Linked DNA regions of Homo sapiens: region 1 is linked to region 2. Evidence: fine-mapped expression QTL. Tissue or cell type: whole blood. Region 2 holds a variant in brackets; the other region holds the start of a gene. All regions are shown on one strand. Distances are from middle to middle. Region 1 holds the start of GTF3C6 (general transcription factor IIIC subunit 6). Region 2 has its middle 31 kb from the start of GTF3C6.

Region 1 (5,328 bases), 31 kb after region 2:
TTGTAAATCATTAAAAGTAAATAAAAATAATTACTTCATAAATACCAAACAATAACTTTTGCTAGAAGTATGAGGCTTGTTTATTTTAAAGGGACATCTTGAGTTATAACACACTAACCTTTCAAAACACACATATTTTCATTCCTCAAGCCTTTGTTTCTGCTGTTCCCTCAGCTTGGATTATCCACTCCTCCTTACTCTCCCCACATCTCCCTCAAAATCTGACAATTTATGTAATTTTTCAGTTTACCAAGTATTTTTAGATATACGATTGAATTTTTGCTTTCCAAGCAAAAAAGACACAGTAAGTATTATTATTATTTTTTGAGACGGAGTCTTGCTCTGTCGGCCAGGCTGGAGTGCAGTGGCACAATCTTGGCTCACTGCAAGCTCCGCCTCCCGGGTTCACGCCATTCTCCTGCCTCAGCCTCCGGAGTAGCTGGGACTACAGGTGCACACCACCATGCCCAGCTAATTTTTTTGTGTTTTTAGTAGGGACAGGGTTTCATCGTGTTAGCCAGAATGGTCTCAATCTCCTGACCTTGTGATCCGCCCGCCTCAGCATCCTAAAGTGCTGGGATTACAGGCTTGAGACACCGCACCCGGTGTTAAGTATAATTATTTTCATCCTCATATAATAAATAAGAAAACTGAGGTTGGAAAACTTCACAATTATTAAGCTTCAGAGCTAGAATTGAAATGTACTTCTAACAGGTCCAGTGTTCCTTCTACTTTTTTAAGCTATGAAATCCTATACATTTAATTAGGCAACTGGACAAAAATATACACAAAAGAGTGTTATTTACAATATCCACAAATTGTAAATAACCTATGTGTTAAAAAATAGAGGATCAAGTTATGGCACACTCATACAACCATTATGTAAAGACAGGCGCTGTGGCGTGCACCTGTAGTCCCAGTTACTCAGGAAGCAGAGGTAGGAGGCTCCCTTTGAGCCCAGGAGTTTGAGGGTACAGGGAGCTACGATGGCGCCACTGCACTCCAGGCTGGGCGACAGAGCCAGACCCTGTCACAAAAAAGAAAGGAAAGAAAGAGAGAAAGAAAGAAACAAACAATGAATAAAAGAAAGAGAGAAAGAGCATCATACTAAAAAATTTATATATTACTACTAATAATAGATTAAATGCACTTTAAATGCTTACTATGTGCTGAATACTGGGCTAAATTTATTTTATATGTATTGTCTCATTTAATCCTCACAACCACCAATCTGCCCAAAGCCTTGCTGTTAATAATGCAGCAGAACTTGACTGGTATTAAAATCCAAAGCTCAGGCTGGGGACGGTGGCTCACACCTGTAATCCCAGCATTTTGGGAGGCCCAGGCAGGGGGATCGCCTGAGGTCGGGAGTTCGAGACCAGCCTGACCAACATGGAGAAACCCCGTCTCTACTAAAAATAACAGAATTCGCCGGGCGTGGTGGCGCATGCCTATAATCCCAGCTACTCGGGAGGCTGAGGCAGGAGAATCGCTTGAACCCGGGAGGTGGAGGCTGCAGTGAGCCGAGATTGCACCATTGCACTCCAGCCTGGGTAACAAGAGCAAAACTCCATCTCCAAATAAATAAATAAATAAAAATCCAAAACTCACGATCTTAACCACTAGATCACGCTATCGCAAGTACGAAGACCGTTTCTTTCACAATCACAAACATCTATGGGATACTTCTGAAAATTCTGTTCAAACTTCTCTTGCCCAGGTCTCTGTGTTCCTATAACAATGTGTATCTCTTACAGCACTTGCTTGGATCCATTTATGTACCTCTCACAGATCTTATGCTCCTGCAGGCCTGAAACTTAAGCCCACTTTCTATTTTTCATAGCTCCTGGTGCAGTGCTTTTTACTGTGTAGGCGCTCATTAGTATTAAACTGAATGTGCCTTTAACTTGGCTTGGGGTACGTTGAATTGAGGATGAGCGCTCACACAATATTAAGAATTTCTTTCCAAGAAATGTGCTCGGGTCAAACACAAGGCCTTTCTGTCCATGATCCGCCTGAAACCATGGTTTCCTTGTTTTCGCCTTTATCCCTTCTGCCTTGCCAGTCCTCCCCGCCAGCGGGGCCGAGAGCCCGGCGACTCTTGCGTGACCGAGCGGGCTCCGCTGCCTACGGCAGCCCACCCCCAGCCCCTGCTCTGAGGCACCGAGAAACGAGGAGGCCCGTGGCGAGTCTCCACGTGGGTACCGGCGCTCTCGGCGCCCGTAGCCACCCGCCCGCCGGAAGCCGACATCTCGAGTTCTGGCAGAAGCAATTTGCGCGGCGAGGAGCGGAGCGGCAGGAACCCAATAAGCTGCTTCGCCTCGGAGCTGAAGCCCGTACTCAAGATGGCGGCTCCGGGCGGGCGTGGCCAGTGACTAGAAGGCGAGGCGCCGCGGGACCATGGCGGCGGCGGCGGACGAGCGGAGTCCAGAGGACGGAGAAGACGAGGAAGAGGAGGTAGTAAGCGCTACGCCAAAAGCCTGCACCGCAGTGGCGGTGATGCCTGTGCTGGCTGTGTGTGGGGAAGGGAGTTGGGGAGCTGCGGGCCGGAGGGAGGCCCCACTGCTCCTCACCGGCTTCTTGCTCCTGGGCGCGAGGAGCCGGGCAGCTTGGGACCTTAGCCCTAATCGTCACCCCGTACTTGGGATGGGAAGTACCGGGAAGTTACCTTAGGTAGCGTAGTTTCCTCTTGCTGAAAACAGGGTCCGGTTTTCACAAATGTGGGAAATTTGGCTTCTTTTGCTAATTGCTCCCTCTTGGCCGCTCGCGTGCTAGCATGTTAACCCCTCTTTCTTTCACCAGGAGCAGTTGGTTCTGGTGGAATTATCAGGAATTATTGATTCAGACTTCCTCTCAAAATGTGAAAATAAATGCAAGGTTTTGGTGAGTTTTCTAGACTTGGGGGGATTGTTCTAGAGTGTCTTAAATGTAAAACAAGAATCAATGGTGAAATACCTATCCGCAAGTATTGATATATTTATTTCACCTTACAAAGTAGTGAACTCTAAGGATAAGAAGTATACTAAGTATAATTAATTAATATGTAATTAAGTATAATGTAGAAGTACAGCGGGGACTATGGGAGCAGATAGGAGAAAATGGCTAACTTTGCTTGCCTGTTTGAATGTGTGGCTGAAGAGAAAGTTACAGATTTGGAGGAAGTAACATTGTGATATGGAACCGTACATATATTCCTGTATTCTCAGCACTTTGGGAGGCAGAGGTGGGAGGATCACTTGAGCCCAGGAATTGGAGACCATCCTAGGCAACATAACGAGACCCCTTCTCTAAAATAATAATAAAAAAAAATGGCCAGGCGCGGTGGCTCACGCCTGTAATCCCAATACTGGGAGGCCGAGGCGGGTAGATCACGAGCCCAGGAGTTCGAGACCAGCCTGGCCAACATGGTGTAACCCCGTCTCTACTGAAATACAAAAATTAGCCAGGCATGGTGGTGGGCGCCTGTAATCCCAGCTACTCGGGAGGCCGAGACAGGAGAATCGCGTGATCCCTGGAGGCAGAGGTTGCAGTGAGCCGAGATCGCGCCACTGTACTCCAGCCTGGGCAACAAAGGGCAAAACTCCATCTCAATAAAAAAAAAAAATAATAATAATAATAAATTAGCTGGGGATGGTGGCATGCGCCTGTGGTCCCTGCTGCTCAGGAGGCTGAGGTGGGAGGATTGCCTGAACATGATCATGCCACTGCATTCCAGCCTGGGTGACAGAGCTAGACACTGTCTCAAAAAATAAATAGATGACAGATAGACTCTTTGCACTACTGTTGACAAAACTTCCTCTGTTTTTAGCTTACTCTTGAACAGGATGTTGATTGAAATAAACCTTGTTACTTGAGTATGAATTAAGTAGTCTTCAGGTTGTAACTGCTGTGATCAGAGCAGTTGTAGTTTATCCTGTACTTGGTAGGACAAGATGCTCTAGAGGTTCCCCAGTTTTGGAGATTAGTTTCCTTGGTAGCAAGGTTACAATGTTGAAGCCTTTTTCTAATTATGTTTTTTTTTTATGATCCTTTATTCTGTTGTAGGGCATTGACACTGAGAGGCCCATTCTGCAAGTGGACAGCTGTGTCTTTGCTGGGGAGTATGAAGGTAGGAGGATGTCAGATAGATGGAACTCTTTCTGATATGGGCTTTTCAGAGATGGTAGCTCTTCTCAACAATTTGCCTTTGTATTTTTCTGCAGACACTCTAGGGACCTGTGTTATATTTGAAGAAAATGTTGAACATGGTAAGTGATTGCTAGCCCAGCCCTTTTTAATACGAACTATTTCAATCATACTTAAGCATAATAAATATCTCATGTATCCACTGTCTAGCTGTATCATATCCTATCATTTTCCCAAACGTGACTCAGATTATAGTTAAAAAAAAAAAATGCCAGGCTGGGCCAGGTGGCTCAATCCTGTAATCCCAGCACTTTGGGAGGCCAAGGCAGGCAGGTTACTTGAGGCCAGGAGTTCGAGACCAGCCTGGCCAACATGGCAAAACCTCATTTATACTAAAAATACAAAAATTAGCTGGGTATGGTGGCATGTGCCTCCCAGCTACTCGGGAGACTGAGGCACGAGAATTGCTTGAACCTGGGAGGTGGAGGTTGCAGTGAGCCGAGATCGCACCAGTGCACTTCAGCCTGGGCAACAGAGCTAGATAAACTGTGTCTCAAAAACAAACAAAAGAACCCATTCCAGATACATTTGAAGTCCTTCTATCCCCCTTTCCAAACTTACTTCTTTCCCTCTGTCTTCAGAGATGATCACTCTCCTGAATTCTTTTTTTTTTTGAGACAGAGTCTCACTCTGTCACCCAGGCTGGAGTGCAGTGGTGCAATCTTGGCTCACTGCAACCTCCACCTCCCAGGTTCAAGCAGTTCTCCTGCCTCAGCCTCCCGAGTAGCTGGGATTACAGGCGCCTGCCACCACGCCTAGGTAATTTTTCTATTTTTGGTAGAGACAGGGTTTCGCCATGTTGGCCAGGCTGATCTCAAACTCCTGACCTCAAGTGATCTGCCTGCCTCGGCCTCTCAAAGTGCTGGGATTACAGGTGTGAGCCACCACTCCTGGCCAAGGAATAAAAGAAGGGCTACTTCATAGGCAGAGCAGCCTACTTTCTAAAGTATGGTATCAATTTATACTCACAGTAGCAATGTATGGAAGTGTCTGTGCTTCATATCCTTGGCTCAAGGGCCTTATCCTCCGTCCTGCCTAGGCATACAGTTTTCTGAAAGTTTCAACTCCAGGCAGCAGGTTGGCAGCAATTTTTTTCCTCAGGCTTTCATGATTGAGAATGTCCCTACTCCATACTTTGGCTTC
Region 2 (5,381 bases):
AGAGACTCTGTCTCAAAAAAAAAATCCTGAAAGTTAAAATATCTCCAGAAATACAACTAAATTTTCTAATCGTGGTTCAACCAAATTGGCCCTCACTCTGCAAAAGAATAATAGGTTTCATCATCCAAATTTTGTTTGGAACCGAGGGGATCAATTCCGATTTAAAACACAGTACAAACTGTCATGTCAGGATTAGTTAGTTCTACAAGAAATCACAAAAACCCTGCAACCTATGGGTGGAGGTTGGCCACCACCTGAACCTGTTTCAATAGAGTGTCTATTGTAAGAAGTGAAACTGCCTTAGGCATTTTTTGAAAACTTATTTAGAGAATTTTGATAGCCGAGGAGTTTTTCCCACATTCACCAAATGCCAAAATATTTTAATTCTCTTATTTCCACAAACACCAAAGTTTTAATTGGTTTCCTTCTACTGCGCATGCACACACATATACTTTTTCTTTGCTAATTTTGGTAAAAGTTAAAACTTAAAGAAAAGCACGCTGGTATGTAAAATATTTCAAACTTGTGGGATTCTTTCTCCATAAAACCTCTATTAATTCCTAGGTTTCTGATTGCTATTTTTAAAACTCATTTGCTTTTATTAAGTAAATACTTGTACAAAGTATATTCAATAATTGAATTCATAAAAACACAAATGGTACAAAAGGGTAAAGTCTCTCACCTCTATTTCCACCCAATTCCCTTCCCCAAGGGGTCCAGTTTTGCCAGTTTCTTGTATGAATTGTCAGAAAGTCTGCGCGTATACAGGCGTGTGTGTGTGTGTGTGTGTGTGTGTGTACACAGCACGTAGTCTTAGTATCTCGGTTGGTTTTTTTTTTTTTGAGACGGAGTTTCACTCTTGTTGCCCAGGCTGGAGTGCAATAGCGCAGTATCAGCTCACTGTAACCTCTGCCTCCTGGGTTCCAGCGATTCTCCTGCCTCAGCCTCCAGAGTAGCTGGGATTATAGGCACACACCACCACGCCCAGCTAATTTTTGTATTTTTAGTAGAGATGAGGTTTCTCCATGTTGGTCAGGCTGGTCTCAAACTCCTGACCTCATGATCCACCTGCCTCGGCCTCCCAAAGTTCTGGGATTACAGGCGTGAGCCACCTCACCTGGCAGTATCTCAGTTTTTTTAAAAAACAAAAAACTATAGGCCAGGCATGGTGGCTCATGCTTGTAATCCCAGCACTTTGGGAGGCTGGTGGGGGCAAATCACCTGAGCCCAGGAGTTAAAGACCAGCCTGGCCAACATGAAGAAATCCCGTTTCTACTAAAAATATCAAAATTAGCTGAGTGTGGTGGTGCATGCCTGTAATCCCAGCTACTCGGGAGGCTGAGGCATGAGAATCCCTTGAACCTGGGAGGCAGAGGTTGCAGTGAGCCAAGATCACGCCATTGCACTCCAGCCTGGGTAACAGAGTGAGACTGTCTCAAAAAACAAACAAAAAACTACACATTTTTTACATCATGAGATCTGATTATATTTAAAAAGCCCTATTTTTAAAATAGTTAACATATTCATGTGTTAAAATTCAATGTTTCCTTTGTTCCCTCCGTGCCTAGGAGGGGAAAACCTTTAGACAAATTCTAATAGAACTGTAAAGTTCAACAGGTTTCTCTTCTACGTTTCTGCTTCCATCTAGTTCTCCTAAACAACCAGTGTTTCCAGTTTGTTGTGTTTTCTATGCATATAGAGCCTGTTTTCCACTAATAACACAATCTTGCTCCATAAATGCAGGGACTCTGTCTATCTGGTTCACTGTTTCTTAACCGAATACAGTACCTAACACAGTTCCTGGCACATAGTAAATATTCATTAATCTTTTGGGGGGCTGGGAGCAGTGGCTCTCGCCTGTAATTCCAGCAGTTTGGGAGGCTGAGGTGGGCGGATTGCTCGAGTCCAGGAGTTGGAGGCCAGCCTGGGCAACATAGATCCCATCTCTGCAAAAAATAAAAATAATAGCCAGATGTGGTGGGCACCTGTCTTCCCAGCTACTTGGGAGGCTGAGGAAGGAGGATTGCTTGAGTCCAGGAGTTCGAGGCTGCAGTGAGCTGTGATCACGCCACTGAACTCCAGCCTAGGTGACAGAGCAAGACCCTGTCATAAAAAAAAATAATAAATCTTTTTGGAATGAAATAATATCCTTATCTCCCTATCCCTTACCTCCATTTCCAAATATACCTAGCAAGTCTAATTCTCTCATGTGAATTTTCTCAGCTTCATCCCTTCCTTGCTTTTTCTGTGATCACAGTCCCACTCAGTCTAATCACTACATGCCTTAGACCACTGCTACCTCCTGATGAATCTCCTATCTGTCTCCCACATAGATACATAGCTCTATGGAAAGAGAAGCCATGTCACGAGATGGTTAGAAGAGACACCAGGTTTAGACTCAGACAGCCTGAGTTCATATTCCAGGTCTGCTATTTAGAAGCAATGGGGCCTTGAGGAAGCAAGTTACCCAGGATCTGTGCCTCAGTTTCCTTGCCTGCACAACAGAGATGACAGTGTCTTCCTCATGGGGTAGTTGTAAGATTAAATGGGCTAATATGTAAAGCACTTACATATAAGACATATAAGAAATGTTCAATAAATGTCATTACTATGGCAAGAATAATCTTCCTCAAACACTGTTTGAATATGAAGCCCTTTTTCATAAACCTTGAATTGCTTTTAGCAGCTCCTCATAGAAACTGTAAATTATTTACACTGAGCCCTAAATCTCCTTATCAATTTAGCCCCTCCTCCTACTTACTCAAC[C/A]AGTTTTTTTCTTTTTTCTTTCTTTCTTTCTTTTTTTTTTTTTTTTGAGATGGCGTTTCGCTATTGTTGCCCAGGCTAGAGTGCAATGGCATGATCTCAGCTCACCACAACCTCTGCCTCCCGACTTCAAGTTATTCTCCTGCCTCCAAGCTATTCTCCTGCCTCAGCCTCCTGAGTAGCTAGGACTACAGGTGCCCACCACCATGCCCAGCTAATTTTTGTATTTGTAGTAGAGATGGGGTTTCACTATTTATATACTTTGATATATTTTCAATTGTGTGTATCCAGATTATTCCAGTAGATTATAATGTCTTCAAAATCTGCCTGTCTATTCTTTTGTTACATCTTGTACATTATATTCACAATGTACACAAATATATTTTCATTTCCTCCTTCCCTCCCTCCTTCCCTTCATTCCTTCTTTCCATTTGATCATCCTCCAAATCCCCTGGCTTCCAGGAAAATGAAGACAATAAAATACAGAAAAGGCTGCGCCTGGGTATGGTCTGAGACAGGCTGCGGGAGCCTGTACCTAGGTGAGAGCAAAGCTGTCACTCCCAAAGTGCGTTCCTTTTAGAAAATTTGTATCTGAAGTATTTTGGGGGGTTGATATAAGCAACTAGTAAACCTTTAACAGTAAATCACTTATTATTGATCATCAGGATCATCATCAAATATTTATTTAGCAACTTTGTTATGAAGGCACCATGCTTACAGGATAAAGGAGAAATTACATGCTTCTTCCTGTGCTGAACTAAAAATCTAACGTGCTGAGGTGGGAGGATCGCTTGAGCCCAGGAGTTCTAGTCCAGCCTGGGCAACATAGGGAGACACTGTCTCTGATAAATAAATAATAAGTAAATAAATAAAAATCTAGTGTGGTGATAGAGACCCCACCCAAAATACTTAGCCACCTGAATGGTACAATAAATAAGAAAACGCCATAATTAAGTGCTGTAACAACCAATTAGTACTTCATAGAGAAGGATGAACCTCATCTGACCCCTGAAGAAAGATCAAATATTTAATGAGCATGAGGAAAAGCAAATATTTTAGGTGATGGACATTATATAAGTGTTATATTATTTAATGTGAAATGCCATTTAAAAACCACGTTTCACATTTATTTACTAGACAAAGAGATCATCAAATGACATTTATTGAGTACCCACTATCTGCAAAGTATTAGACAAGGTAGAATGGGGTATAGACATGCATAGGATGTGATCCCTGCCCTCCTAGAGATTATAATATAGTAAAGAATACAACATGTAAATAGCTGACTAGTAACTTGCAGAATGAAGGAAGCTCAGAGATCTGGAACCCCAAGAGTAGCATAAAGGTTTCCTGACTGCCACAGTGTTGTGTAGTCTAGAACACAACAAATCCCTTTAACGGCAAATTCTGACAAATGTGATAATTGTGGAGACAGCAGGTGAATAACTGAGTGCCTGTGCTTTGCATTACTGAATGAATTATGCTATATTTTATTCTACCCATCCTTATCATTATTTTCATTGTAGCTAGTTGTTGTTGTTGTTGTAGTTGTTGTTTGAGACGGAGTTTCACTCCTGTTGCCCAGGCTGGAGTGCAATGGCGCAATCTCGGCTCACTGCAACCTCCGCCTCCTGCGTTCAAGCAATTCTCCTGCCTCAACCTCCTGAGTAGCTGGGATTACAGGCATGCGCCACCAAGCCCAGCTAATTTTTTGTATTTAGTAGAGATGGGGTTTGATTGAGTATCCACTATCTGCAAAGGCACCTTCGTCTCCCAAAGTGCTGGGATTACAGGCGTGACCCACCACGCCTGGTCTGTAGCTTGTTTTGGTCAGTTCCTGTCACATGAGACCTTTTTGTTTCTGAAAAAACATTATGATGTGTGGAAAGGACCTTAGTATTATCCAATCCAATTTTCTCATTTTATAAATGGGCAGCTGAGGTCTGTTAAGGAACTTGCTTAAGGTCATAAGGCTTTTTTTCTTTCATTCATTTCTTTAATAAGAAAGGTACCTATAGGCCAGACGTGATGGCTCATGCCTGTAATTTTGGCACTTTGGAAGGCTGAGCTGGGAGGATTGCTTGAGGCCAGGAGTTTGAGACCAGCCTGGCCAACATGGTGAAACACTGCCTCCACTAAAATTACAAAAATTAGCTGGGCATGGTGACGAGTGCCTGTAATCCCAACTACTTGGGAGGCTGAAGAAGGAGAATCGCTTGAACCCAGGAGGTGGAGGTTGCAGTGAGCTGAGATCTCACCACTGCACTCCAGCATGAGCAACAGAGTGAGACTCTGTCTCAAAAAAAAAAAAAAAAGAAAAACAAAAACAAAAAAAGTGAGAGAGGCATTTGTTACTTTTATATTACAACTTGTCATTTTAGACATTTCTTAAACTTCCTGTTTCATGACTAATCCAGGATGTAACATCTATGACAGAAAGTTAATGCTGACATAACTAAGTACTCTATGAAATTTCTGCTGCCCATCTCCACATCCCCATTAGTAGTATAAAACTGTCTTTCTTTCTTTTCTTTTTTTTAAGACAGAGTCTTGCTCTGTTGCCAGGCTGGAGTGCAGTGGTGAGATCTCGGCTCACTGCAACCTACTCCTCCCGTGTT

The links. PIP is the estimated chance that this variant, and not a neighbour inherited with it, causes the effect.
Region 1: GTF3C6 starts here. The variant in region 2 is the best candidate, but not a certain one, in a credible set for the expression of GTF3C6 in whole blood (INTERVAL, PIP 0.76).

Annotation. Positions count from the first base shown.
Region 1 is chr6:110,956,370-110,961,697 of GRCh38, forward strand. It overlaps GTF3C6 (general transcription factor IIIC subunit 6), which reads left to right and starts at 2,337. Exons shown (of 6, transcript NM_138408.4): 1 at 2,337-2,457; 2 at 2,803-2,883; 3 at 4,045-4,108; 4 at 4,203-4,247. The coding sequence starts at 2,401. RefSeq lists an enhancer at 2,210-2,659.
Region 2 is chr6:110,925,018-110,930,398 of GRCh38, forward strand. No RefSeq gene overlaps it. Among named protein-coding and RNA genes, the nearest start is that of GTF3C6, 31 kb to the right of the region's middle. The variant C/A (reference allele first, on the strand shown) is at 2,767.